4 linked regions of the Homo sapiens genome follow. The protein of the gene in region 1 interacts with the protein of each later gene in a pairwise test. Each region holds a gene or a part of one and is shown in the gene's direction. Other genes may lie near its edges. The genes, in order: CD9, MME, ODF4 and PTGFRN.

Evidence for each region.
Region 2: the proteins of CD9 (region 1) and MME interact in binary tests that used the Homo sapiens proteins (3 or more experiments, as listed by UniProt).
Region 3: the proteins of CD9 (region 1) and ODF4 interact in binary tests that used the Homo sapiens proteins (3 or more experiments, as listed by UniProt).
Region 4: the proteins of CD9 (region 1) and PTGFRN interact in binary tests that used the Homo sapiens proteins (3 or more experiments, as listed by UniProt).

What each region holds. Positions count from the first base shown.
Region 1 is NC_000012.12:6,224,393-6,231,413, forward strand, and holds part of CD9 (CD9 antigen), read left to right. Parts: intron 1-1,033; coding exon 1,034-1,142; intron 1,143-1,746; exon of another isoform or gene 1,747-1,968; intron 1,969-7,021. UniProt on the Homo sapiens protein: Integral membrane protein associated with integrins, which regulates different processes, such as sperm-egg fusion, platelet activation and aggregation, and cell adhesion.
Region 2 is NC_000003.12:155,075,445-155,083,327, forward strand, and holds the start of MME (neprilysin), read left to right. Parts: upstream 1-4,874; 5' UTR 4,875-5,022; exon of another isoform or gene 5,023-7,883. UniProt on the Homo sapiens protein: Thermolysin-like specificity, but is almost confined on acting on polypeptides of up to 30 amino acids. Biologically important in the destruction of opioid peptides such as Met- and Leu-enkephalins by cleavage of a Gly-Phe bond.
Region 3 is NC_000017.11:8,335,932-8,342,854, forward strand, and holds the start of ODF4 (outer dense fiber protein 4), read left to right. Parts: upstream 1-3,908; 5' UTR 3,909-4,120; coding exon 4,121-4,574; intron 4,575-6,923. UniProt on the Homo sapiens protein: Component of the outer dense fibers (ODF) of spermatozoa which could be involved in sperm tail structure, sperm movement and general organization of cellular cytoskeleton.
Region 4 is NC_000001.11:116,905,011-116,912,924, forward strand, and holds the start of PTGFRN (prostaglandin F2 receptor negative regulator precursor), read left to right. Parts: upstream 1-4,905; 5' UTR 4,906-5,193; coding exon 5,194-5,242; intron 5,243-7,914. UniProt on the Homo sapiens protein: Inhibits the binding of prostaglandin F2-alpha (PGF2-alpha) to its specific FP receptor, by decreasing the receptor number rather than the affinity constant. Functional coupling with the prostaglandin F2-alpha receptor seems to occur.

The sequences.
Region 1 (7,021 bases):
GGAGGTCTGGGTGGCCCTTCCCACTATTGCCACATCTGCTGTCCACCCAACATGCCCACACTCACTGCCATATCGTAAGGGAAAGGAGAGGAGGAAAGGAGGAAGGAAAGAGAGGCCTGTCCACACCATGGGCTATCAATAGCTCCTGGAGCCGAGAACCAAGGTCCCTGATGAGCGGGCTCTGACATAAGAGTGCCTCTGTTGAGGAGGGTGGACCAGCAAAACCTGGGCCCACCCACTCCTGCGTCCAGCCGGCTACCACACTGGAGGCCTGTGAGTCACTCCCCCGGCAAGCCCTGGTACGGGTGACGACGAGGGAGCTCAGCTGGCACTGGGGGGACTTGGCAGGAGGCCTCCTGCACAGCATCTAGTTCAGCAGTGCCAGCGAGGGGAGGCCCTGGCATGTCATTTACTGAGCAGCAGGTCTCCAGGGACATTGCAGCTGCCCTCCCTGGTGCATGTGTGTCCGGAACTGTGTAACCATCACCCAAGTCAACAGTTAGAATACGACACCCCCAGCCACATGGCACCTCCCTGAGCATAATTTCCTCCTCCACCTAAACATCACCACTCACCTGATAACAATGCTTTTCCTTTATCATTTATAGGCACATGTAAGCGTCTAGCTCTGTGTGCATCCCTAAACAGCATAGCGTTTTTAACTACATGGAATCATATTGTGTGTGTGCCTGTGGCTCTGGCTTCTTGGTTTAGCATTGTGAGATGCACTCATGGTGTTGCGTGTAGCTAGAGTTACTCGTTTTCACTGCTGTATAGTGTTCTGTTGCCTATAAAATACCCCTTCAGCCAATGGGCGGCAGGTAGGTCACTGTTTATTCCTCGCTTGCTGGTATTTTTAGTACCTGCATGAATCAAACACACCCCGTAATGGCATCTACAACTACCAGGCGTATATGAGGGGCAGAGACCAAGGGTGGTCACAAAGTCCTTTGCAAGTCTCACCCTTAAGCGCGTGGGGACTGTGTTGTTGCTGGCAGCCAGAATTAATGCTGATGTCCTGTATGTCTTGCAGCTTGCCGGGATTGCTGTCCTTGCCATTGGACTATGGCTCCGATTCGACTCTCAGACCAAGAGCATCTTCGAGCAAGAAACTAATAATAATAATTCCAGCTTCTACACAGGTGAGGGACGGGGAAGGCTCAGTGAATTCAGACCCTGGCTCCAACAAAGTTCCTGCAACTTTGGAGGCCCCATGTTGACCCAGGGACTTGGGCTTGGGAAAGACTTTTGCTCTAGCCACGCTGGCCAGTCGTGTCCCTTTCAAGTTGTGCAGTTTTTGTGTGTGTCGTTGTGCCTGGGAATTTGCGTTTAACTGATGTGGTTTCTTTTCCTGATGGCCAAGTCAGGCATGTTGATGGTTCTCTGATGTGATGTAGCCTCTGCCAAAGTTGTACTCATTCTTGAGGGTTTACGAACCTCTGTTCTCATCTCTGATGCTCTCTCCTGATTGTCTTCTTATCCTGCATCATTTCCTTAATTCAAAAAGCTTTGTCCTGGGGATCTGCAGTGCTGGAAGAAGATATAGACAGCTTTCCTCTTCACTGTTCAGATAGGGACTCTGAGACTGGGAAAAACATCAGCCTCCTGGAAAACACAGCAACAATAGGAGAGACTAGAATGGACTCTGCCCAGTCCTTTGGACCCCTGGTACTGGGGTAAATGCTGTAGTGTTTAGTTTTATTTGTTTGTATTTGACACGACTTTTGCTTTGGGAGAGAGGCTTCCAGTTTAAACCTGCCTGGGATCCTCTGAACATGAACAGACTTGGCAGGTTTCTTTCTACACTCAGGCTTCTTGGCAGCCTTGCTAGACCATTCTATCCCTCTCGTTGCCGTATCACCACGTCAAAGCTCCCTTCAGAGGAGGGGGAGCCTGGTGCCTGCCAAGTGCAGTTGCCCGCGTCTGCGTGAATTCAGACTCTGCGGCTGTACTCTGCCTGGCTTGGAGGTAGGAAACTTTTCATTTGTGAGGAACAAAGGAAACCTCCTATTTTTAGGATGACGCTGACATGTTGTCAGGCTCAAAATGTAAGTTTGGTCACTTCCTTCCCACCCACCAAAAAAGTTATTTTTACAAACGAGGGAGAAAACAGTTATCTCCCAGTCCCTCAGGGAGAAGCAAGGCTGGCCAGCCACGTAGACCTTCCCTTTCCCACCTCTTGAACTGGGTAGGGAGAGTCTTTAAAAACAGCTCCTTTGGTTGCGTAACATTTGAGCCCTGTGGATAGTTTTGCTGGGTTTACTGCTTTTTATTGTTAGCTGGGGTTTTTTGGGGTGTGTCTCTCTATTATCGGAAAGAAAGTGAGAGAAAGCACAATGTATGTTTAGAAAAAAAACTACACATACACACAGAGTTTTTGGGGAACAGGTTTCTATAGCGCCCTGACTTGTTTTGGCAACAGACCATTTTTTGGGAGTCTGTGACAGGCTTAGAATGCTGTCCTGCAGAGCAGGAGGGAGGAGCCGGGTGCGGGTGCTGGGGAAGACTCTCCACACTCCACGCCGTGTTCCAGAAGGGAGCCCTGTGCTGGGGGAGCAGGTCTGCCGGCAGGAGCAGGCACAGTCAGGCCTGCTTTCCTAAGCAAAAGCCCTGTGGCCGGCGCGTGTGTCTCCAAAGAGAGACTCAGTCCTCCCTTGTCCTGGCTGCTTCTAACAACCCACTTTTTCTTTTCTGTTACCCAAAGCCTCTATGGCTGATTCTTTATATTTTTAGATGTGGGAGTTAAGAATCTCATGGGTAAGAGGATGGAACTGGGAGGAAGACACTAACATTTTTATTTTTTATTTTTTTTATTTTTTTTTTGAGACGAAGTTTCAATCTTGTTGCCCAGGCTGGAGTGCAATGACACAATCTCGGCTCACCGCAACCTCTGCCTCCCAGGTTCAAGCGATTCTCCTGCCTCAGCCTCCTGAGTAGCTGGGATTACAGGCATGTGCCACCATGCCCAGCTGATTTTGTATTTTTAGTACAGACGGGGTTTCTCCATGTTGGTCAGGCTCGTCTCCAACTCCCGACCTCAGGTGATCCTCCCGTCTTGGCTTCCCGAAGTGATGGGATGACAGGCGTGAGCCACCTCGCCCGGCTGGAAGACACTAACATTTTTGAGCCCCCTTCTTTGTGTGTCATTCATTGTCTTGTGTGTATTATATAATTTAATCCCCTTAGCTCTACGAGGAGTGTGGAGTGATTCTCATCTCACAAGTGCAGAAACCGAGGCCTAGAGAGCTGAAATAACTTGTCTAAGCTTATATTCCCTCAAGAGGCAGGGCCAGGTTTTGAACCCAGGCCTAAAAGAGCTGCTTCTCGGGTTGTCATTGCCAGGTTGTGGGGTCTCCCTCTGTAGGAATGGAAGAGGTCTGTACTGGCTGAATGTGCCCCATTGGCAGGGATGGGGTGGCGCTGTCTTGGCCCTTTTACTTCACCCAAATTGCAGTCAGGGAGAGAAACCCCTGCGTCGGTGGCCCAGCCAGCAGCTGACAGGTGGGAAAGCTGCAGGGTGGCAGGAGAATGGTGAGTGCCATTAGAGGAGCTGGGGCTCACCTCTGGGAACCTCACAGGATTCAGATCCTGCAGGTCATTGCAGGGCCCTGCTGGTGGCCGGTGGTCCTACCTGAAGTGACCAGGAGGGTGATTTGAAGGCACAACCCCAAAGAGACACAGATCCCCTAGTTGGGGTCTAAGGGCCACTGTCCACTTAGCTCTGCCAGGGAAATACAGATCCTTTGCAGCGACACCCCATTCGGGGAAGAGAGCGGAGCTTTGAAGACTTCGTTCTGCCTGCAGAAGCGCCGGCAAGGGGGATGATGCACGGTAAAGTTAGAACAGCAGCACTGTGTCTGGGCACAGTGATCAGCCCTGATCTCAGGTGATCCGTCCGCCTCAGCCTCTAGCACTTTGGGAGGCCGAGGCAGGCAGATCACCCGAGGTCAGGAGTTCGACACCAGCCTGGCCAACATGGCAAAACCCCACTTCTACTAAAAATACAAAAATTAGCTGGGCGTAGTGGCGTGCACCTATAATCCCAGCTACTCGGGAGGCTGAGGCACAAGAATCTCTTGAACCTGGGAGGCAGAGGTTGCAGAGAGCTGAGATCACACCACTGAGGCTCTGTCTCCAGCCTGGGAGACAGAGCGGGACTCCATCTCAAAAAAAAAAAAAAAAAAAAAAACAGCAGCACAGCACTCTGAGCACTGCTTAGGTCTGAGCTATGCCCTGAACGTCACTGAACGCTTTAGGAAATAATAATTGTCGTCCATGGGCAAAGGGCCAAGGAGGCGTCGCTCTGTGTCCCCTTCCCCACGAGGCTGTGAGACCAGCCTTCTGTACTGGCCCAGAGCCCTTCTCCTAGCAGATGAGCTTGGAGTGCCAGCCACACCCTGGCTACTTTTCCAAGGAATAGTCATGGGGTGACCGCCCCTTGCACTGGGCCACCAACTGTCTGCAGAGCAACCCACAGGCCAGCCTGACCATGCAGCTGACTTTTCAGGAAACCTGAACAGCCCAGGGGTGTCTTTTCTCCAGTGGGGCCACAGCTTACCAAGTAGAGAAAGAGTATATAACCAGGCAGAAAAGCAAGTGAAAACCTTTCCAACATTCAGAACAGTCTATGGTAAGTCCAGAGCAGCTGACAGCCTTATATGGGCCTTCTCTCCAATCCAGGCCTGGAGATTCAGCCCGTCAGCAAGATCCCTAATCCCAGGCTGCAAACTTGTTGGGGAACTTCATTTTCTTGGTCCTAGGCCAGCAGCCTTTCCCAGCTCCCTGGTGTCCCTCCAGAACCATGGCTGCTGAATGAGGGCATCTAGGGGGGCTCCAGCCAGAGGCCGTGAATGCCCCCCCTTCCTCGGCCAGCCCCCTATCCATGATGAGGTGCCTGGTGATTTTCAGGACACGCGACACTTGGCCTTAGTAAGCTGGCATCCCCATCCTGGCTTGTGACCTGGGGCAGTTCATTTTATTGCTCTGGGCTTCATTTTTCTCCCTCCTGAAACCAGCACAGCTTACACAACCACAGCACAGCTTACACACCCACTCCCCTCTGGGGCAAAGAAGTACAGCGTGTGGCAAATGGAATTCCATTGTGGCACTTATTCCCGTGAACTCGGGAGGGCGGGAACCAAGACGAAACCAGTCGGGGCAGAGGTAGGGCTCCTTTGAACACCTGGTGGAGTTATTTGGATATAATAAACTTTTATTGCAGGCCAGAGGCCCTACCGGATTTTGTTCTCCTTCACACAAACGGGCGTGGTGAGTGCTGTTTGCAGGACAGAGCTGGTGTAGGGACGGGAGCCTGCTGTGTCCTCTCCCTGGGCTAAACTGAGAGCCCTGGTGAACAGTGAAAAACACTGTTCCATTTCTTGTGTAAAGGACACGCTGGCATATGCTACTGCTGCTACACCAGCCTTTCTTTTTTTTTTTTTTTTCTGGGCCTGTAATGTCAGCCTGAAAAAAGCAGAATAAACAACCCTTAAGCAAATTAATACCGTAATCCTAGAGAAGGCTCTGTGATGGATAACTTTTTCCATGAGTCAGACAGCAAGCTAACATTCGCTTGTTTTATAAAGGGGAACACTTTGTCATTTATCAACAGCAGCCTTGGCTAACAAGCTTGGGGTGTAAGCGATGAGTAGCTTCTCCAAAGGGAAGCACTGAATAGCCCTTGTAAAAACCAGCCCGAGCCCTGCAGTGGTTCCGTGACTTCCATGGGGCCTGCTTCCAGATGAGCTGTCCTGTAGCTTGCCGGCTGCTGCTGAGTCCCCGAACACAGCTGCCAGGGGATCGCTTCCCTTTTCCCGTGACTAGAGAGGGCTAAAGCTAGGCACTGCAGATCCGTAGCCATCCACGCAAGATTTAAAGCCCACAAAACCCGTGATCCTAAAATCTTCCTCTGCTGAGCCCTAGCATGAATATTTAATATTAACCACAAGCCCCATTAGGAGCATGTTCTCTTTCTCTGCGTGGGAAATACTTTCTCTTTAGTAGCTCACTTGCAGCTAATCCAATTCCCTTGGCCTCTGCCAGGACCGCCAGGTTCAAGAACTGGGATCTGGACTTAGAGAAAACATGTCTGCCTGTTCGTTCCCACTCCACGGTATTTCATGTGTTTGTAAATCCTTTTGATCTCTTAATACCTCCTGTTTATTCAGCCCCTGCTATGGAGCTCAAAGGAGTGACCTCATCCTTCCTTGACTTGCCCCCATTAGATGGGGAGAAACTGGGGCCTTTCTACTGTCCCCATGTGAGAGAACCAAAGGAGGCTGCCCTCTTACCCAGTGCTCCATGCATGGGGCTGCACAGCCTCCCCAAGCCCAGCTTGTGGCCTCAACAGCGTTTGACTGCCCAGGAAGATGCGACCTGACTTGAGGACAAGCTACATTTGTCCCCTTGCCCAGTGTGGGCCAGGCATGCACAAGAACAATACCCATATTCTTGCAACATGGGGTTTGCCAGTAACCCCACGTGACTTGACCTCACGACGGATGTGGGGGAGAAGGGGGAGGAACAAACGCTCTCTGTGTGCATTCTGCTCTGTGCTGCCCGTGAGCCTCAGCTGCGGGCAGACTGCATGGTTTGTTGCCTGCAAAGTCTCACCCCTGCTCGGGGTGCAGATGTGGGACAGTGAAGTCAGCGTGTCACCTGCCGAGGGTTCTCATCGAGTGTCCTGCTGTGTATTGTGGGGAAACATCACAGACTTTCTCTCTCGCGTGCGTGTTTTCAGCCCCTACATCAAGGATATCTCTCTGGTCCCAGTGAAAGGACAGTAGGGATACAGCAGCAGGTTAAAATTCACCATGGTGATTATTAATGATTGTTACTCATGCTTGGTATAATTGAGATTAACAACAGCTAGCATTTGTTGTGCACATGTGGATTATATCACTTAATCCTCACAGCAATCCTGGAAGTGGGCATTATTGCTACTCCTGTTTTACAGATAGAAAACTGTTGCACAGAGAGGTTAAGTGGCTTCCCCAGAGTCACAGATCTGGTGCTCTCGACA
Region 2 (7,883 bases), on another chromosome or scaffold:
TTTCTAGCATTTTATGTTATACTTCCTATATGTTCTTCTCTAATACTTTTTATTTTTCTGTCCTCCTTTAGATTGACTTATGTTTAATTTTGTTTTTTCTTTCTGCAAAACTTGACCTTATGCACTCTATTTTTATCTTTTTTGTGGTTGTATTAGTACTTTTTACATACATAATTAACCTAATAAAGTCTAAAGTATATAATTAATCAATATCATTATCCTTCTTTCCAACAACATAAGTAAGGACTTCATTTTATTTATTTAGCCAGGGTCTCACTATGTTGCTCAGGCTGGTCTCAAACTTGGGCTCAAGTGATTTTCCTGCCTCAGCCTCCTGAGTAGCTGGGACTACAGGTGCACACCACCAGGCCTGATTGAGTAAAGACTTCAGAGTGCTTTAATTCTAATTAAACTCTCCCAGCTTACACACCCCGTTGTCTGGTTTTTTAGTTGATCTTTTTTATCACCATTCTTTTATTTTTGTTAATGTTTGCTTAGATTTATTTATGTTGTTACTATATTCTTTGCTTATCATTCTTTCTCACATATCAGATCTTCCATAAACTATTATTTTGCTTCCTAAATTCATTCTCAAGAAGTTCCTTTGGTTACAGTCAGTGGTGGGAAGTTTTTCAATTTTTATTTTGAACAGTCTAGCTTGGACTACTTTACCATAGATCTTTAACTTGGAAATACTCAGGCTACACAATTAGTATAAATTCTATTCCTACATCCATTTGAAGTCTGGCCAAATCATGAATTCTTACAGAAAGTTTTTGTTGTAAGTTTACCAGCCTGAGTCAGGACTGAAAAAAGCAAGTATATCTATGTTTCTTGTGGAAGAGTAGGGGTGAGGAGTCGGAGTTGGGGCTGAGTTTCATTTTTTGTTAGCCCACATTTTCACTTTGCCCTGGACTACACTTTGTATGAAGTCCCTTGGCACTTGCAAGTCCTGTTAAAGTGAAAGCTCTAGGTCGCTTAAGTCCAGTGAGGCCTCTTGAAATGGATAGATACCACCAGGACAGCTACTGTTTTCAGCACTCACATATCCTTCTTGATTTTTTTGTCGGTATTACAAGAAAGACATCTTGATCCAGACCCCAAAAGAGGGTTCTTGGACCTCTTGCAAGAAAGAATTCAGAATGAATCCATAAAGTGAAATCAAGTTTATTAGGAAAGTAAAGGAATAAAGAATGGCTACTCTATAGGCACAGCAGCAGCATAGGCGGCTTGACTGAGTAAACTTACAGTTATTTCTTCATTATATGCCAAACAAGGGGTAGATTATTCATGAGTTTTCAGGGAAAGGGGCAGAGATTTCCTGGAACTGAGGGTCCCTCCCCTTTTTAAACTATATAGGTTAACTTCTGGATGTTGCTATAGCATTTGTAAACTGTCATAGCACTGGTGGTAGTGTCTTTTAGCATGCTAATACATTAAAATTTACATATAATGAGCAGTGAGGACCACCAGCGGTCACTTTCATGGCCATCTTGGTTTTGGTAGGTTTTGGCTGGCTTCTTTACAGTATCCTGTTTCATCAGCACAGTCTTTCTGACCTATACCTTGTGCCAACCGACCTCCTACATCATCGTATGACTAAGAAGGTCTCACCTCCTGGGAATTCAGCCCAGCAGGTCTCAGCCTTATTTTACCCGGCCCCTATTCAAGATGGAGTTGCTCTGGTCCAAATGCCTCTGACAGCTCTCTTTGTTTTTGGCTTCTAAGATTTTCTTTTACTTGCCTGCTGGCTCAATGGTGCATATAAAAATGCACTATAGCATTTTTAAAGGACTTAAAAAAATTCATCAAGCATTTGTGTCACACACAGTGGTTTTTAAGGATCCATTCTGCAAACTGCTAGAACCAATGCATTCCATTCTTAATAACTTATGTATGGCCACCAGGAGGGCTACTTTCTCCTCCATTCCTATAAGTGGCCAAACTGAGTGATCTTGGACCACCTCAGTAAGCCTCAGTTGTCTAAATTTACTTACTGTAAATAGTTGGGGACTCTTTAAGATCCCTTAAAAAAATTATCTCAAACTTGCACAAACTTCTGGGAGGAGATTTAGCATTCTTGATTTAAAAACAAACAAACAAACAACAACAACAAAAACCCTAAGTTTCTAATCAACTTTAATGAAATCAAGATATTGTAAGGGAGATGTGGGTAGTCCAAGCTACTTAAGAGGCTGAGGCTGAAGGATTGCTTGAGCCCAGAGTTAGAGACCAGCCTGGGCAACACAGTCAGACCCTCATCTAAACAAAAAAAAACGAACAACAGCAACAACAACAAAAAACAGAAAGAAAAGAGAAAAAGAAAAAAATATTTGTTCTGGGAAACCAGTTACCAATCCATACTGTCGACTATCAGCTGAAAGTCAGAGTCTAAAATTAACTCTAAGTAGGCATTTTTTTTTTCTTTTGTCATACATTTTAAGTAAATCCTTTTTTTTCCTTTAAAAGAGTCCTCACCGCCAGGCATGATTGCTAACACCTGTAATTCCAGCACTTTGGGAGACCGAGGTGTGTAGATCACTTGAGGCCAGGAGTTTGAGACCAGCCTGGCCAATATGGAGAAACCCCGAAAGTAAAAGTACACACACACACACACACACACACACACACACACGCAAGCAAAATTAGCTCGGTGTGGTGGTGCGTGCCTGTATTTCCAGTTGCTCAGGAGGCTGAGGCAGGAGAATCGCTTGAACCCAGGAGGCAGAGATCACACCACTGCACTCCAGCCTGGGCGACAGCACGAGACTCTGTAGGAAAAAAAAATTCCAGTTGAGATGCTTTCCAGGGCGCTAGTCAAGCCCCGCATGCTTATTTGTGGGAGTGAAAACACCAATATTTCGGGATTGTTGTGAGGACTAAATAGTGTCTGTAAGATGCACAGAGAAAGCGTAAATAGACGTCAATAGCACTTGTTAGGTCTACACACTCCATTTTTCCTCTATATTAATCGAATTATTTAAAGATTGGTTAGCTTTTTGGGGAAATGTCTCTCCATTGTATTCCACTTATTAGGATGAACTACCTTTTCTCCTTGCTTTTCAGCTTTCTCTGCTATGAAAAAGATGGAAAATTTTTTAGCACAAGGGGACTCTTCTCAAGCAGCAAATCATTTTGATATTAAAAACAGATAATTGCAAACCCAGTTTTATTTCAGTATGAATTCCGCAGTGGAGTGTGAATATGTGTGTGTATGTGTGTGTGTGTGTGTGTGTGTGTGTGTGTGTAATTACCTGTGATTCAAAAGAGGAAAGGGATCAGTATTAAAGGTACTTGTACACTGGAAGCAAAAAAAAAAGGAAGTTTAGTTCCTCTGAGCTCCTTGGCAATTATAGCTGCTAAAGGTAGCTTTTACAAAGAAACTGCCTTTGTGCCTAAAGTATTTATTTCCTTGTTTGTATTTACCCCTTTGAGGAGGAATCGCTGTGTCTTGAGTGAAAGGGGTACGCTGCTTGCTTGCATTAAACTGTGAGGGTCCAGGCGCATTACGGCTGATTTCAGTAGGTAGAGCAGACACACTTTAGTTTATTTTTCTCTTTCTCACTCCCCACCCTCAACCTCCGATGTACACACGTTTTAAGATTCCCTGAAGTCAGGAGGTGGGAGCGGAGAGTTTCAGTTCAGATCTTGACATGAGAGTACTTCGACCAAGGAAAAGAAAGGGAAGAAAGAGGGAAGCGGGGTGGAGAAAGCAGGAGCAAGGAAGGAAAGAAGGAAACGGGGAGGGAGAGTAAGAAAAAAGAAAACGAAGGAGGGAGGGAGAGAGGACATTTAAATGAAGAAGGAAGGAAGCTTGGATTCAGGGAGGAAAGGGAGCGGGAAAGAGAGCGAAAGAAGAGCGTGAGAAGAGGCAAGCATTATAGTCTCCGGTCCACAGGGGAGAGATGGAGCCCCCTCAGGACTAGAGAATCCCGAAGAGCCCGTGTATTGTTTTCTTGAAAGCCCCGAAGCTAAGCAATTCTAAAAATGTTTAGCAAAGCCCTTTTGGGAATGGTGAGATGGGGGGTGGGGAGGATGGGACATTTTCATTGCCACCGCCCGCCCCCCGTCTCCCCGGCCCCCTCACATGAAGTGACTGGATTTGGGAGACCTAGCGGAAACCTTCAGGTCACCCAGGGAACTGCTCCTCTCTCTGGTCCTGCAGCGGCGAGGCGGGGTAGGGGGTGGGGGGGGTGGGCCGTGAGAGCGCCGAGACGCGCGGGGCGCGGAGATGTGCAAGTGGCGAAGCTTGACCGAGAGCAGGCTGGAGCAGCCGCCCAACTCCTGGCGCGGGATCTGCTGAGGGGTCACGGTGAGTCTCTGTGGGTGCGGGTCGGAGGGATGCCCAGGTGCCTCGTCGCCCCACGGCCCGGGCGGAGGCGGGTCCGGAACCTCCCCCAAGTCCGGCCTCAGCCTGGAGCCCGCGCGCCTTGGGCGGATGCACGGACTGAGAGGCGCTTGGCTGGGCTCTCAGCCCGCCACTGCCACCCGGCCCCGTGCGCTCATTGGTCGGGATGTGTCGGCTCAGCAGCCTCCAACTTCTCCCGAATCCCACTGGTGAGTCCCAGGAGAGCGAGCTGAGGGAGAAAGGTCCAAAGGGCGCGAGCGCCCAGGGCGCTGGGAGCCCGTGGGACGGGCACGGGGAGGGCAGAGCCAGCCGAGGGGAGCGGCTGCCGGGAGGTGCGCTGAGCAGGGTCCGCAGCTAAGGTCCAGCGCGATCCGAGCGCCCAGGACCCTGCGGCCGTGGAGGAGGCGTGCCCTGGGAAGGAGCCGCTACTGGGACCTGAAGAGTGAGGGGAGGGAGAGGGGCCCAGAGGGTGACCTGGAGGAGGGCTCTGGAAGTCACGTCAGGTTGGCTCTTCAGGTTCATTTCCATAGTTCCCTGCGGCCTCTGCCTTGGGGAGTTATGTTTTGTTACCGAGATCCGCGCTACCAGATTGCACCGGGGCTGATTTGGGGGCTGGGAATTTGCCATTCTGCTGTACAGACACTGATTTTTTTTTCTTCTTTTTAAAAAGCAAGGTTTGTTTTCATTTTGGTTTCTGTCGGATTTTCTCATTTGTAACTCACTTTTCTATTTTTACTTTTCTTAACCGGAAGATCTTTTCATTATCCCACCTCTTCATCTTGCTTTTAACCTGATTTCCTATTATATAATTAATGCTTAAATCTCACAAGGGTTGGTCGGTGCGGGGCTGGTGTGTCCTTTTGTAGATGAAAGTTTAAGACCTCTTAACTGGTTTCAGTCTATTTGTCTGGTTTCAAAATAAGGGTAATTGCAACCAAATATCCCTCTTTAGCTTCTCGATCAAGTCGATTCCTCCCCCATATATGATTCAAATGGCAATTTTATTAAACTGAAAACTAGTACCTGACTTGCAGCGTCAGCATTTGGAAAGTGCTTGTCGGCAAATCGACTGTATGAAGGCGTGTAGCTTCATCCCCTGCCATTTTTGTGGGTTCTAGCACTTTAAAAAATTGTCTGGTAATTTCTTGGACTTAACCCTGTGTCTTTGGTTGTAGAGCAGCACTAACCAGGGGAGTAATATGGTTGGCACTTCGTGTCCAGAACTCCGTATTTCAGGCTGGGAAACACCTAATTAATGTCTGGGAAACAAGAAGATGATTTATCCTGAGTACCTCTGTCCTCAGCTTCTGCAGACACAGTTTAAATATGGAAACTGTTTCTCCTTCTTCCTGTGCCTCAGTTTCCATAGAACAAACTGTAATTGCATAGCACAGCTTCAGGAACCTGCAGATATAAGTTAATGTTATAATGTGCAGTGAAGATGAAAACTGCTTAGCTAAGTCTAAGTCTGTAAGTCAATGAGATTTCCTTTTTAACAAATCAGTTATCCAGGTTTCCTGCTTTGACTGTCTGATATAGTAATGCTTATGCTCAACTGGTATAAGAATTGCTGCTTTACATTGCTTTGAAATTAAGCTTACACTTAAAATAGTAATTTATTCTGTTGGTAATATTGTCGAGCTGAAGTTTGCAGGTTCTTGTTATCTTAGACCTCCTAATTCTCTATTCTCGTCTGTGGCAGTGTCCACTTTTCCGTTTAAACTTTTTATTTAACACATCTTCAGTTGAAGTGAAATATTTTAAGAATACAGGTATGTTTTTGCGTACCCTGCTTTATATGGGACTATAAGCCTCAACTTGGTATTTTTTTTTTTTTTGTATTCTTTTGTTTACTTGTCCCCCTTACTCTTCTCTATGGGATTGGGTGTGGTTAAGTTGGATATTCAGGTATTTGGGGTTTAGTCATATGTTCCACAGTGAGATTCCAGATACTGTCCCCTGATGTCTTAAAGAAAAATTGTGAACCTTCCAGAATTAACTGGAAATGAACGACAAAGTTAATTAGGAGATTAAACTTGCATCATTTCTGCTTTTGCTCAATGCTTTTGAAAAAAGGCTACTAAGAGCAAAAGACTTCCTTTAAGAATTTACAGGGCATTTACAAGAGGGGGAGATGGAGGAAGACTTTGCAGGTGATTCAAAGATTATATTGTTTTGATGCAGCTTCTGTCACTGTCTTCATTTCTCTGTAACTGTTTCTGCAAACTTGGGTGCTGACCCATTAAGAGCCCAGCTGCTTCAGTACCCAGTCTCAAGGGTAAGGAGGAGAAGCCAAGGGAAAGTAACTTACAGGGAGAAAGAAATGCTTATCCACTAGCTTTACTACACCACAAGGCATGGAGTTTCCACAGAGCACCTGTAATTTAACCCTGAGGCTGCCCTGGTTCACCCCTTCGCTTTACTTTACAGGGACACTGACTGTCATTTCTAAGGAAGAACTAAGAAAAAAAAAAGTCCTTTTATACCAGTAAAACATTTCTCTACATTGTCTTCTGACATATGCGGGGGGAACAATATTCAGGAAAGGGAAATACTTTAGCAAATGTGCTTAACATTCAGGTGTTCTTTAGGACAGTCATGAAACATGGGGAGACTGGGAGAATTATTATTGTTTACCTCTCTGTAAAGTGTCCAGAGTATTATTAAATTTGTTCCCCTCTTTCCTTTGCCCAACCAATACACTATTAAAATAGGACTACAATCAATGCAATTCCATATCATAACCCCAGGGGTGGTGAGACTAAGCCAGCATGCCTTACATAACCATTAAGTAAGACATTTTAACATTCAGGTACATTACATTCCACTTTTATTTAGCAGACACGGTTTTCATTGTGTAATAAAATATTTTTATTTGATAGTCTGTCCTTGCTTATAGCCTCATGTAATCAAGGGGACAGCATGTTTAAGACTTTGTATCCAGAACTTTAAGGTCTAGCTGTGGTTCGCTTATTAATAATTCACTGGGAAGGTTAATTTCTAGTTTTCTGCTGGGTCTCCCAGACCATACTTCAAATGTAGAATATGTTTCTTCTTTCTCCTATGCCTCAGTTTCCACAAAACACACCCTTAGAGAATTGTGTGTGTTCAACAAAGATCTTTAACTATAAGAGCATTTCTGAGCCGCCACTTCATCCTGGGACCAAATTCTAAGAGCAATTTGTATTGAGCTATAAACAGCTAATCTGCTAGTTTAAGATGTTCTTTTATACAGTCATGCAGAAAAATGGAAATTGTGTGTTCTAATCCTTGGAGACTGGCTGATAAAGTGTCACTAGGCCCCTGATGAAATTTAATATTTAGGCTTATATCCCCTTAATTTTCCCCCTAAATTTCTACAGTACGCTTTTACTGCATGATGATACAGCTTTATTTTGAACAGTGACCAAATGTGTTCTTTACAAAGAATATTGACGAGTTGTGTAGTCTTGAACACGTTGCCTGACTTCTCTGTGCCCCAGTTTCCTAATTCTTTATTCTATTCTGTGGCAGTGTCCACTTTTTGGTTTAAAGT
Region 3 (6,923 bases), on another chromosome or scaffold:
ATCCCAGCACTTTGGGAGGCCGAGGCGGGTGAATCACGAGGTCAGGAGTTTGAGACCCACCTGGCCAACGTGGTGAAAGCCCGTCTCTACTAAAAATACAAAAAATTAGCTGGGCGTGGTGGCGGGCACCTGTAATCCCAGCTACTTGGGAGGCTGAGGCAGGACAATTGCTTGAACCGGTGGGGGCACAGGTTGCAGTGAGCTGAGATCACACCACTGCACTCCAGCCTGGGGGACAGAGTGAGACTCCGTCTCAAAAAAAAAAAAAAAAAAAAAGAAACTCCAGGAAAAACTTAAAAACTAAAGAGGATTCGAGGGAGGAAGCCCAATCCTGACGACACTGGCTCTGTGTAAATGACATTCCCAGCAGGCCCACCACCCCCTCTCCCAGTGTTCTCCCCTCCTTCTCCCATCTTCAAGATTCTGTCTTCTGGCTGGGTGTGGTGGCTCATGCCTGTAATCCCAGCACTTTGGGAGGCCGAGGCGGGCAGATCACGAGGTCAGGAGATCGAGACCATCCTAGCTAACACGGTGAAACCCCATCTCTACTAAAAATACAAAAAATTAGCCAGGCGTGGTGGTGGGCACCTGTAGTCCCAGCTACTCGGGAGGCTGAGGCAGGAGAATGGCATGAACCCGGGAGGCGGAGCTTGCACCACTGCACTCCAGCCTGGACGACAGAGTGAGACCCTGTCTCAAAAAAAAAAAAAAAAAAGATTCTGTCTTCTGACCCAGTGCCCCAACTGTAGCTGCTTGTTCTAAGGATGACACTCGTCCCTGGCAGGGCCAGAGAATGCTTGGACTTGGGACTGAGAGGTCTCCCCTCCAGCAGCTGGAGGGGTCTGATACACAGCTTGGAGTGTGAGGGCCATGTTTCCCACCATGTGGACCAGAGCAGAGGAAGAGGCTGGTCTGCAGAGACAGAGGAAGACGCCCAGGGAGGGGCAGAGACCACAGCCAGAAGAAGCGCCCTCACAGGCTTTGAATTTCAACTTTCAACCATTCCTGAGGTCCCACTGCACAGGTGACATCAGGATTCATAGTTCACTCTCCTTTTGCTTACAAGGAGAGTTAATTTGGAGAGTTAATCTGTTCCATGATTTGCAGATGCCACTGACTGGCAAGGATGCTTGCCAGGAATTATCTTCTGCATTTTTGCTCTTTCCCTGTTTGCTAGTGAAAGACTGTAAAAACAATTAAAATGATAATTTAACAACATAATTACCAGTTGCTGGGAATTTACTATGAACTAGTGAGTGCTTTTTGATCATTATCTCATTCAGCACTCTTACCAAGTCTATGAGAAAAATATTGTTCCTGTGTTACAGATGAGTAAACTGAGGCATAAGGAAGCTATATGACATCCAGGTTCACAGGGCTATTAAGAGGAAGACCCGGCTGCATGTGGTGGCACACACCTGTAATCCCAAGACTTTGGGAGGCTGAGACAGGTGGATCACCTGAGGTCAGGAGTTTGAGACCGGCCTGACTGACATGGTGAAATCCTGTCTCTACAAAATACAAAACATTAGCTGGGCGTGGTGGCTCATTCCTGTAATCCCAGCTACTTGGGAGGCTGAGGCAGGAGAATTGCTTGAACCCAGGAGGCGGAAGTTGCAGTTAGCTGACCAAGATGGCGCCATTGCACTCTAGCCTGGGCAACAAGAGTGAAATCCCATCTCAAAAAAAAAAAAAAAAAAAGGCGGGGAAGACCCATTTTTCATACCTTTGCCTGTTGGACCCCAAAGCCTATGTTCTTTTTTTTTAGACAGAGACTCCTTCTGGCCTGAGTGATGAAGGAAGACTGTCTCAATAAATAAATACATAAATAAATAAAATTATAACAATCTCAGAAGGCATGACACCTCTAGGACCCATTCTCATCCTACATCCTCCTCTTTCTGGTGCTGAGAAAAAAAAGAAAGGAAAAAGAAAAGTCAAAAGAAGAGGGAAGGAACTGGTGGTGATTGACTAGCAGTGAGTAGAGCTGGGAGGGAGGTGAAGGGTTGGGGAAAGCAATGGGAAGCTCGATGACATCTTTGCAAGACATGTCCAAAGAACAATGGAGGGAGGATCTTTTCCTGGGGATAAGCTCCTGCTCCCTCCCCCTGCTCCATCAGTGAGCATTTGGGGTTGGGGTTAGGGCAGAGGAACTAGGAAGAGAAAAGGGGACTGTCCTAGTCCATTTTGTGTTGCTATAACAGAATACCTGAGGGTGAATAATTTATAAAGAAAAAAGGGCTATTTGGCTCACAATTCTGATGGCCAGAAAGCTCAAGATTGGGCATCTGTTGAGGACGTCAGGCTGCTTTCACTTATGGTGGAGGCAAGGGGGAGCTGGCTTGTGCAGAGATCACAAGGTAAGGGAGGAGCTGAAACTGTGCCCCAAACAGTTAAATAAACCAGTGATTAACAGACATTTTCGAGTTTACAGGATGGCAGCTAAGAAACAGCTTGCTGAAATGCTGAAAAATCCCTTTGCTTATAACAGGACTGGCTGAAATCAGTGGGAACCCGTATGGCTGACAGCAATCCGCACAGAACGAGCTTGCTGATGTCACAGCCTGAATTTCCACCTGCTGTTTCATACTAACGCCACCAAATTTGCACATGCAACCCACGAAGAACCTTGGAGATAACCAGACATGATTAAGGACTTTCTAGACTTCTCCTTTCTTTCCACCAATCACCCGCTAATCCCAGAATCCTCCCCCTAAACCTTTTCTAATAAAAGTACTGCCTTAAGACCAGCAAAGAGAGACAGATTTGAGCTGGATTCCCGTATCCTCGTGGGTCAGCTCACAATAAAGCTTTCCTTTTCTCAAAACCTAGTGCCCTAGTATTGGAGTATTGGCTTCTATGCACATCTGGCAGCGAGCACTTTTGCTTGGTAACAGCGCCAGGTTCTTTTTAACAACCAGCTATTGCGGGGAGCTAATGGAGTGAGGTCTCAGGGAAGGCGTTAATCCAATCACAAGGCATCTGCCCCCATGACCCAAACACCACCCACTAGGCCCTCTCACCTCCCATCACCACCACACTGGGGAGCAAATTTCAGCATGAGGTTTGGTGAAGACAAATTAACCATATGCAGACCACAGGAGGGCCTCTCACATACCATTGCTCATATGTAAAGGGAGGCAGAAGCTGGAGGGAGGTGTCAGATCCACAGTTCTGAGCTGTGGCCTGAGAAACAGGATTTCCGGAAAGAGTTAGAGCTGGAGCCACAGGCCAGGCAAGGTGGCTCACACCTGTAATCCCAGTGCTTTGGGAGGCCAAGTGGGGAGGATCTCATGAGGCCAGGAGTTTTTTTTTTTTTTTTTTGAGGCTGAGTTTCACTCTTGTTGCCCAGGCTGGAGTGCAATGGTGCGATCTCGGCTCACCGCAACCTCCGCCTCCCAGGTTCAAGCAATTCTCCTGCCTCAGCCTCCTGAGTAGCTGGGACTACAGGCATGTGCTACCACGCCCAGCTAATTTTGTATTTTTAGTAGAGATGGGGTTTCTCCATGTTGGTCAAGATGGTCTCGAACTCCCGACCTCAGGTGATCCACCCACCTCGGCCTCCCAAAGTGCAGTGATTACAGGCGTGAGCCACCGTGCCTGGCAGAGGCCAGGAGTTTGAGACCAGGCTGGGTAACATATCAAGACCCCATCTCTACAAACAATTGAAAAATTAGCCAGGCATGCTGGCACAATCCTGTAATCCCAGCTACTCAGGAGGCTGAGGTGGGAGGATCACTTGAACCCAGGAGTTCAAGGTTGCAGTGAGCCAAGGTTGTGCCACTGCATCCCAGCCTGGGCAATAGAGGGAGACCCTGTCTCTCTCTCTAAAAAAAAAAAAAAAAAAAAAAAAAATTGCTGAAGACTTGGCTTCCCTCCCCCATCTCACTGTGCCCCAGGAAAATTCCGTGGCAGTTAGGGGACCTGGCCTGCTGAATGGGTTGGGGCCTTCTCTTGGATCAAGAGTCTCTTATTTGATCGAGGTCTGTTATTAGACTTCCTCATTCTTTCTCAGACCTCAGGCTGCATGGTGGCAGCTGATGAAAATATCCAAAAGATGAGAAGAGACAATTGAGTCTGGTGAGGGAAAGGGGAGACAGAGGGTGAAGTGGTGCTCAAGATGGATGCAGAGTACTCTGGGAATGAGTTCCCCAGGTCAGAAGGAGAAAGAGACCAACATCAGAGACCTGGAAAGGAAAGGAAGAGTGGGGAGGCAGGATGGGGCACAGGTGAGCTGGGACAAGATGGGAGACTGCTGTCCTCCACCCTCTCCCTCAGTAGTAACAGGTCCTTGGGCCAGCGCCAGAACTCTCCGCTGCCCTTTCAATGGAGAATCACACACAGCTTCCGCTGGATGGCCCAGGTGTTGGCCTCTGAGCTCAGCCTGGTTGCCTTTATCCTACTATTGGTCGTGGCCTTCTCCAAGAAATGGCTGGACCTCTCTAGGAGCCTCTTCTACCAGCGCTGGCCCGTGGATGTCAGCAACAGAATCCACACATCAGCCCACGTTATGTCCATGGGGCTCCTGCACTTTTACAAATCCAGGAGCTGTTCTGACTTAGAGAATGGGAAAGGTGAGCCCCTCCACCCCCCATCCCAGCCCAGGCCGCCAGCCTGTCTTGGCCTCTGTATCTGCACCCTGGATGTATTCTTGTTCCCTCTTTCTGGTCATCTTTACTTTTTGGCCTGCAAGATGGTTCCACTGGCACTGAGACCTCCGATGATCGTTTCTCATCCTGTAGCCTGGCTAAATAGATTTGATTGGTGCAATGGAAAATGTCACTGCTTTTGATAAAACCCAGAGCCAAATCTGTGCTTCTAAGAATGCTGTGAGAGAGTTGGGCATGGTGCTGCACACCTGTAGTCTCAGCTATCCAGGAGGCTGAGGTGGGAGGATTGCTTGGGCCCAAGAATTTGAGTCCAGCCTGGGCAATTTAGTGAGACTCCTGTCTCAAAAAAAAAAAAAAAAAAATCAGGCTGGGCACTGCGTCTCACACCTGTAATCCCAGCACTTTGGGAGGCCAAAGCAGGCAGATCACCTAAGGTTGGGAGATCGAGACCATCCTGGCTAACATAGTGAAACCCCGTCTCTACTAAAAATACAAAAAATTAGCCAGGCGTGGTGGCACATGCCCGTAATCCCAGCTACTCTGGAGACTGAGGCAGGAGAATTGCTTGAACCCGGGAGGTGGAGGTTGCGGTGAGCCGAGACCGCACCATTGCACTCCAGCCTGGGCAACAAGAGTAAAACTCTGTCTCAAAAAAAAAAAAAAGTTACGAGGGGCATGGACTCAGCACAAGAGAATCATTCATTAATCGCCTAATTTACCAGGGACAAGAGCCCCAGTGAGATGGGGGTTTCCTTAGTCTTGTGTACCCAGAGCTTTGAGAGGACTCCTTGCAATGTCCCCTCTCAGGCCCTGATCCCACACATTCTCCTTTCCTTCTGCCTCAGGCCTTGCTTTTCTGGATCATTTTCCTTTTTCCACATCTGGCTTCTGTGTTCCTTCTTTCCCTGAATTCTTGCAGCTGCTTCATTCCTCATCCTTGTTTTTTTCTGTTTGTTTCGCTGATTTTTTTAGAGACAAGGTCTCACTCTGTCACCCAGGCTGGAGTACAGTGGTGCAATCATAGCTCACTGCAGCCTCGAACTTCCAGGCTCAAGGGATCCTCCTGCTTTAACTTCCGGAGAAGCTCAGACTACAGGCCGTGGCCACCACACCTGGTTCTTATTGTTGTTAGTCTCTGGTTATGCTGTTCCCTCACCCCTCAGGAATTTGGAGTTCTTTCCCTGCTCCTGGGGAAAACCAGAGCTTTTGACCCTTATTTCCATTTTTTCACTCTCCTTAGCATGAAAAAAATCACACAGCTATTATTTTCTGAAAGTATTATGTCCTTATCATATGAATATGAAAATATTCATATAATGAATTATGAAAGCATTATGAAAATATTATGTCCTTATTATAATAAATTTGGGGAAACAAAAGCTATCCTTTATTGTACACTTACTCCATTTGTTCAATTTAGTCCTTAGTCAATCCTAAGGGATAGGGATAATTATCCCTATTTTAGAGATGAGAAAATTGGGACTCAGAGAGATTAAGTACCTTGCTCAGGGTCATAAAGCTATTTAGATTGAACCAAATGACATGCTAATATTTGACTGCTTTTCACCTACAAAAGGAGAATTTCACATGGATCAACCTAATAATGGCAGGGTTGGAATTGCAACTCAGGTGTGCCTGGCTCTAAAACTCACATAGGCGCCTTGCTCTACGGAGTTACTCAAAGACAGCCAGGCTTTTTATTTTTATTTATTTATTTATTTGAGACAGAGTCTTGCTTTGTTGCCCAGGCTGGAATGCAGTTGCGGTCTCAGGTCACTGCAACCTCTGCCTCCCGGTTTCAAGCGATTATCCTGCCTCAGCCTCCCAAGTAGATGGGATTACAGGCGCCCACCACCATGCCCAGCTAATTTTTGTATTTTTAGTAGAGACGGAGTTTCACCATGTTGGCCAGGCTGGTTTTGAACTCCTGACCTCAGATGATCCGCCTGCCTCGGCCTCCCAAAGTGCCTCGGCTCACGGATTACAGGCGTGAGCCACCGCATCCGGCCAAACATCACTGATTTTTAAAATTTATTTAATTAGGATTAGGTGTGTATAAACAGTGAAAATTCAAAGAATACAAAAGATTGTATACTGAAGTGAGTCTGTTATCTCTTAGTATCCAGTCTCCCTCCCTAGTTTCTCCTGTTTCTTTCCAGAGACACTCTATTCAGAGACAAGCATCTATTTTTATTTTTATTTTGAGACAGTGTCTCACTCCGTCACCCAGGATGGACTGCAGTGGTGTGATTGTAGTTTATTGCACTGCAGCCTCAAACTGCTGGGCCCAAGTGATCCTCCCACCTTGAAGCT
Region 4 (7,914 bases), on another chromosome or scaffold:
AGTGCAACACTTCAAAAACAACTGAAGACAACTCCTCAGAGCTCCCTGTTGTCTTCTCCAAGTCTTCCAGAAGAACCTCTTTCCATATAAGGTAACTCTTCTCCTGATGAGGGTTGCCTGATTTCACAGATAAAAATATAGAATGCCCAGTTGAATTTGAGTTTCAGATAAACAATGAATACATTTTTAGTGTTAAGTATGCTCTGTGTAATATTTGGGACATACTTATACTAAAAATATATTGCTTATTTATCTGAAATTCCAATTTTACTGGGCATTCTGTATTTTGGCTAGCAACCCTCCCTACTCTGGATGCATTTTAGTTTGTAAATGTTGTTTTTAAAATATAATGCTTAGAACTTAAGATAATATTCTAGTTGAACACAGAAGTGCAGCTCACGTGGGGTGAGAAAGGCAAGTGGGGAAATGGTGAAAGGAAGAGGACATCTTCATCCTCGTCTCCCTCCCTCCCCCTCCCAATTTATGTGTGAAGACTGGGATAAACTCCCTTCCTGTGAGGGGATAAAGGCCTCTCCTGGGCATAGCAGGTCAGAGACAGGGCACAATGTTGGCTCGATGGGGCACCCTTGGGCACCATCCTACTTGGCAGCCATGACCTTAGGTAAAGAACTTACTCCAACATCCATAGTGCCTGCAACTATTTCTAATGTGTTAGCCCCTCTTTTGCACAAGGGACTGCTGTCTCCATTCATTTAAGAGATACTTTCAGCCCAGATGATGGCATATTTGCAGAATACAACACATAATGGCTTGTGTCTCTCTTATCCATTTACCTTTCTTTCAATTCCTTTGCTCTTGTGGTTTCCATCTCCTCCCCGTCCTTCACTGTATTCCAGGTTTTTCATGCATTAAATTAGATGATAAGCCCCTCCAGGGCAAGGGCCCTGTCTGCTCGTAACATAGGAAATAGCCTCAGTCTTGGGGAGAGCTTTTATTGCCAAAGGCTCACCTCCATCCAATTCCTTATTTTCTCCTCACACTTCTCCACCCCAGTGTTCCTGCAGGCGTGATGCTATGTGGGGTAGCTTCCCAGGGAGGCACTTTTGGCCTGGTGGAGGTGGAATCTGGAACAGTTCTAAGTCATTTAAGAACACTTTCTCCACCATGTCCCACTTCAGTCTTTTAGGGCTGAAGAAAAGATGGGGAGAATTGATAGTTGGGTGGTGACGAGCAGGACCAGCCCTCAGGCAGGACCCTGCTTAGCCCATACCAAACAGATGAGGTCCCTTGCTGTTTTCAAACTTGTCACATGAGCATTCTACAGCTTCCCCACTAATCTCACCAGTATTGCAGGACTCTCACTCGTGGGGAAATAAAGGCCTCCTCTTCCCACCCCTCCCTTTCTAACTTTTAATTTCATTTTCTAATTCTATAATATAATCCTAAATTTCTTTTTGTTTAGTAATCTCTGTTTAACTTTAACTGGGAAAATATACATCTGGACACAGAACAAGGAAGACTGTGAGTGAAAATGATTAGTGGAATGAAACGGTGCCATGGAATATACTCCTTCCCCTGAGCCCCTGCTGAAGTAGGTAGGGGTCAGGGTCATTTGGAGACTGTGTGCGTGTACAGGCTGCCAGAGGTGGCAGGGCCAACAACTCCAAGTCTAGGTGAGTCTTAGAACAATCAGCAATTTCATTCACTGGGAACCTTTTAACATTTTCATTCACAAAGTTAAATAACATGATGATGTTTTTGCCTGATCTCAGCAGGGAAAACTTGTTTGGCGTAACAGTATGAGGACTCTTGTGAGGTTTTAGGGGTATCACCTGCAGAAAGACATGTGTGACCAAAAGACCATAATGTCGGACTGCTGTGACCAGTGCCCCTTGGGGGCACTATGATTGGAGAAAAGAAACCCATGTCGGTACTCTCCTTGGGGGTGGGCGTGAATCAATTAGAATTGCTGGAGAGTGAGTCTTCCTGCCCCAGGCAAGCCTATAGACTAAGATAGGAGAACAACTGGTTGGGGCAAAAGCCTTACCTGTATAGAAGGTTACTCACTCTGGTAAATAAATATCTTTCATAGTAAAAGCATCATCAGATTCCAGAGTCATGAATTAACAAATTGTGCCAGTCTGCTGTGTTTCTTCCTTTATCCATTGGTAGTCAGGAAGGTGCAAAGGGTGTGGTGGTTATAACCAACAGTCTAGACTTATTAATTTATGCTTATTTTTTGCTACAAAAGTGGCTCTTTGGTTAACTCCCATGACATTTAACTGCCAGCCACCAGCAGGCTACCCACTTCAGTCCTCATTCTACCTGCCTTACCTAGACAATTTTATTTATTCTCATCATTTCAATGGTTAACCACTGTTATTTCCATGATTGTAAGATACACCATTAATTTAATAATACCTGGGGGTGGGTGAGGTGAGAAGAATCTCTATCATATTAAATACACAACATCTATTGTAAGCTTATCCTTACACTCCACAGCTAAAGACCTACCAATTTTTCAAGACTCGTTGCATAGTCATCCCCTCTGTGAAGCTTTCTCTGACAGCCTCCTCCTGGACTGGCCGCTCCCTTGTGGTGTCACAACTCTACCTTGCATATGCAATCACAATGCACAAAATGTCGACTCCTCAAGGGCAAGAACTGTCTGCTTCATCCCTGTACCCCCAGGATCTAGCCCAGTGTCTGCCATTAATTCACTCTATAAATATACATTGGGACCTACCATGTGCTAGGCACAGTCCCTGACACACATTGTTTATTAAACAAAAGAATTTTTAAAACATCTACTCTGCCATAAGGTGGGATACAAGGTGAAAATGTGACAGCCTCTTAGGCCCATGCATTATTAGACAGAGATGGGGGTAGTGTATACATTTTGCTAAACTGAATGTGACCAAGTGCCACAATGTGTGGTTCAAACATTAAGCGTTCTGGGTGGTTAAGAAAAGGAAAGATGGAGGATGAGCTGAAATCTGAGCTTCTGAAGGTGCCAGGCCTCACATTTCTCTGAAGCTCCACTACCTTCCAAGGCCTAACATTAGGCTTGAATTCAAGGTTGATTGAATGAAATTGGGAAACTTCCCTGCGAGATTCTAGGGAAGAATTGGGATGGGGAAGAGAAAGGAATTACAGTGTGTATGAACAGAACCAGGAAAGGCTTGGCGGCAGAAATAAATTTTAAAAAAATTATTGTGTAAAATGTACATAGCACAAAATTTACCATTTTAACCTTAAAAATTTTTTTTTAGAGACGGTGTCTCACAATGTTGCCCGAGTGGTCTCAAACTTCTAGCCTCAAATAAAAAAAAAAAAGAAAGAAAAAAGAAAAAGAAGAAAAAGTGCCAGCCCAGTGGCTCAGACCTGTAATCCCAGTCTTTGGGGAGGCCGAGGCGGGAGAATCGCTTGAGCCCAGGAGCTCGAGACCCGCCTGGCCAACATAGGGAGACTCCAGTGTCTACAAAAAATAAAAACAATTAGCGAGAGTGTGGTGGCACACATCTGTGGTTCCAGCTACTTGAGAGGTGGAGGTGGGAGGATTGCTTGAGCCTGGGAGGTCAAGGCAGCAGTGATCCCTGATCGCACCACTGCACTCCGGCCTGGGTGACAGATCCTCATTTTGAGACCCTGTCTCAAAAATGAAAGAAAGAAAGAAGACAAAACAAATAAAAACTCCTGGCCTCAAGCAACACCATCCCTGCCCCCCGCCTCCCCCTGCCCCCCCAACCTCAGCCTTCTGAGTAGCTAGCATTACAAGTACCAGTTACCAGGCCTGGCAATTTTAAACATTTCTAAGTGTACCATTCAGTGGCATTAAGTACAATAACGTTGCACCACCAGGAATGAATTTTTAAGTCTCTTTCCAAAGATACCTGGCTAATCACACATTTGATAGTGGGGAAATAAGAAACATTTGTTGGTTGAAAGACGGATGCATGAGAGTAAAAGCAGTGTTCTTCCCCAGTGTGGGCAGTTTCCGCATAAGCATCTGCGATCCGTTTTGCATGTGAATGAAAGCCCAGTGACGGGCAGTGGGCACCAGTGCTGCTCCTTGCGTGTTTGAATCATGCTTGCTAAGTTTCAAGCAAGGAATGCTCCATTTCTCCCAACCAAGTCGGGCCTTTTGTATTCAAATCAAAAGCACAAAACTCTATTGTAGGGGGAAAAATGAGTCTTTATTGGCAATCAGTGGTGTCCACTTAGAGCAATAAATATTAAGTCTTAAGAGTACATTCTATATGAAGTACTATAGCTATTAATACACTTGGGTTTTGTTTGTTTTTTAAATGGGTGTCTTTGTGGGGTGCTGTTCTAATCAGTGCCACAGGCGCCGAGGAGAGGGAGGGAGCTGGGTAAGGAAGGAGACAGGCCCACCCTAGCCACCGGGGAGTGGGCAGAGTCAGGAGAGCGGGGTTCTGATTTTGCCCCTTCCCTGTGAATCCTTGGGCACCTCACCGAAACACTTAAGGCCTCTGTATGGTAGAGGTTGGAATCCGTGGCCTTTAAAAGTCCTTTCAGCTCCTTCGCTCCTATCTGCATAATTTTTGGCATAGGCCAAGCGGCTGGTTGGTGGGGTGTTTAGCTCAGGACGAGAGGCCGAACGAGCGGGGAGTTGGCTGAGGATAGACTAGACACGCGTGGGTGACTCCAGCGTGATGGAACGCGGGGTGTCCCGGGATAGGGCTAAAGCGATGGGATTTCCAGACGAGTCTTTCCCAGGCCAACTTTTAAAGGTCGGAGGAAAGTTTCTCGTGGGGTGGGGGCCCAGAGGGGATGGCAGGGTGGGCTCCGACGCCTCCTCGCCTTTAAGCGGGTGGCCCCGGCTCTTCCTCCGTTACCTGGAGCGGGGAGGGGCTTGGGAAAGTTTGTGTTTGTTGCTGGCAAAGCGCCGGATGGGAGGCGCGGGCGGGCGCTGCGGTTCTTCCCTTCTGCTTTCGGGAAGCGGTCGGGGCTGCACACTCGGATCGGCGGGGCCGGCTCCCGGGCCCGGCCGGCTGGAGGAGGGAGGGAAGGAGGCGGGAGGGAGCGAGCGGAGCCAGGGGCGCACGTACGCCCCAGCGCTGGGATTTATCGGCTCGCGAGGAGAGCGGAGCAGGCGCGCGGCCCAGGCGGAGGAGCGCCGACTCTGGAGCAGCCGGAGCTGGAAGAGGAGGAGGAGGAGAGGCGGCGGGGAAGGAGGAGGAGGGGGAGAGTCGCTCCCGCCGGGCGAGCATGGGGCGCCTGGCCTCGAGGCCGCTGCTGCTGGCGCTCCTGTCGTTGGGTGAGTGTGCGCGGGGCTCAGCGGGGCACACGGGGACTGGCGAGGCCCTGGAGGGCTCGGCGGGGCGCGGCTGCAGCGCGCGGCCTGGGGCGCCGAGGGTGCCCGGGCTGCTCCCGGGAAACCCGGCCGGGGTGCGCGGGTTGTTCGGCCCGGCGGGGAGCGGCCGCGGGGCCGCCCGGAGCCTGGCGCGAATCCGCTCGGGCCCCGCGCGCGGGGTGCAAGTGGCCGCTCCGCCAGGCCGAGCCTCGCCCCCAACATGTGCCGGGGGGAGTGGCCCGGGGCCGTCTTTCCCCCAGGTCTCCCTACCTGTTGGCCGCCGGGAGCCCGGCTCACCTTGAACTCCCGGCCCGGAAGGTGCTGCGGTCCCGGCCCGGGTCCTCGGCTCGAGAGCGGAAATGTGAGCCTTTGATATGCCCCGCCATAGCCGCCGCCGGCCGGGTCGCTCTTCACCCAACCCGCGCGGAGTTGCCTTTCCAGGGAAGCGAGAGAATCCTCCAACTTCCTTCCACGAAGGTCACAGGGTGGCCCGGAGCGTTACAATGGAAATCGGCGGGCGAGTCCTGCCGTCATTTTCGTCGTGGCTAGATCTTCTGCCTCAGTCTTTTCTTTTAGCTTTTCTTGAAGCTGCCTAGCTGCGTATTTATACACAAAGACCTAAAAGCCTGGCTTCTCCAACTTTTTCTACCTGTTACTTTCCCTCCCTTACTATCCCCTCGTCTTCCACCCTCCGGAAACCCTGGGTGCCCCGTGAGGTTTTGGCCCAGCGCCCTCCCCCCACCCAAGGAATCTTTTGTGGGTTTTTTCCCTCTCCATTTTCCATTCACTCCATACACAGACACCATCTTCACGTAGATCCACATGGTGATCCTAGCCAGCCACGGAAATATGTTTATTAAGTGCCCACCATGGTACCCCAGGGCCGACTCTTAAATGTTTTGATATTCTTGGATCCTTGTTGTCAGTGTCAACCAGGACAAGATGATTCCTGTGACCTGGCCTGGGGTTCTCTTCCAAGCCCCTAGAGAAGGCGGCTCTGAGTCTTTCACAGAGCGCATGATGTGCGGTGTCCGTGCCATTCAGGTCCCAGCTGCACACAGGGCAAATGATTACTCTGCACTTATGGTCAGAGGGTTCCAGAGGAGGCCTTCTATAGCTACTCCCCTGCTGGGGACACCGGGGCCCACACTGCTGTAACCCCCATGACTCCTGCTGCTGATGAACCAGCCTTGCTGGCTGCTGTGTTTTCTTCCTTCACCTTGAAGGGATTTTCTGAACTGACTCCCTCAGAGAGCTCGTCCAGCCACATTGCTTCAGCTTCAGCCCATGTGCAGAAAGCTTCCAGATCTTCCACTTAGTTTTATGGCATCTTTTCTATAGTCCCTGATCCTAGTGCTTTATTTTTATTTTTGAAACAAAGCCTCAGTCTTTCACCCAGTCTGGAGTGCAATGGCACAACCACAGCTCACTGAAGCCTCAAACTCCTGGGCTCAAGTCATTCTCCCACCTCAGTCTCCTGAAGTGCTGGAATTACAGGCATGCTCCACCACACCCGGTGGTAGTGCTTTTAATCTTTACTTTTCACTCTGGGACCCTTGTAAGTTGTATGTTAGTGGCGCACTGCTGTTATAGTCCACACACATTAATTGACTTTATGTGTCTGGGTCAAGCAGGGCCATGGCCTAGGTTTGCACAGATGGTGCACTGTACAACTTCGGGAGCTGCTGTTCACTTTGTAGTCTGTGTGAATAACTCCCCCTAGAGCTGTGCAGTTCTCTGAACAACCTGGGTACCAGTTATGAGGGTGGGATGAGGTAGAACTTTGAAAACAATGCCCTTGAGTAATAATGAAGGGAGAAGAGGGGAGGGGGCAAAGAGAGACTGACAAAAACAAAATAGAAGTGGGGAAAGCACAGCTTGGGGAAATCTTGATTGTACTCCAGCATATCCTGTCCTGGCTGGATGCCTCCTATGAATTACACAGGGAATTTCTGTGGTGTCACCAGCCAGTACCTTTTCACCTAACAGTTCTCTGAACCATTGATGACCCTCCTGATAACTCTGCTGTCACAGAATCTCACTCGGTGTGGCTTCAGCCTGACCTCTGGGAAGGTCTCGCTGTGTTACACTGCTCTGGCACTGTACTGATCCCTGAAATGTAATATGTTGATAAACAAGATCATCTTTCCTCCTGGGGTGTAACCTGGGTATAATCGTGGTATCGCTGCTCTTTTTGACCTCCATATTCACGTAGTCTCTCAATTCTTGGCTCTCCCCGTACCACAGACTCCAGCTTCTTTCTTTCCTTCCTGTTTCTACGGCTACTGTCTTAGCCCAGGTCCTGATTGTTTCCCACACAGTTGGTGTCTTCCTGGTTGATTATTTCCTCCAGCCTCCCTTTTAAGCTCATCCTTTTCCTAAATGATCATTTTTGGGGCTCCCACCTGTTCTCACTGTGTCCTTATGAGTTTCCTCCAAGGAGATGTTGCCCCTTGTGTGTCCCTCCCCTCTGGTCTTCTCTGGCTCAGACACTTCGTTCCAACTAACCTGTTTGCTCTCCTTTATGTAGACTATATTAAACCTTCTGGCCCCTTCTACTTCTCACCTCTTGCCTGCGTATTAATATTTCCTTTTTCCCTTGAAACTCACTTTCTCCATGAAGCCTTCCTAAGCCT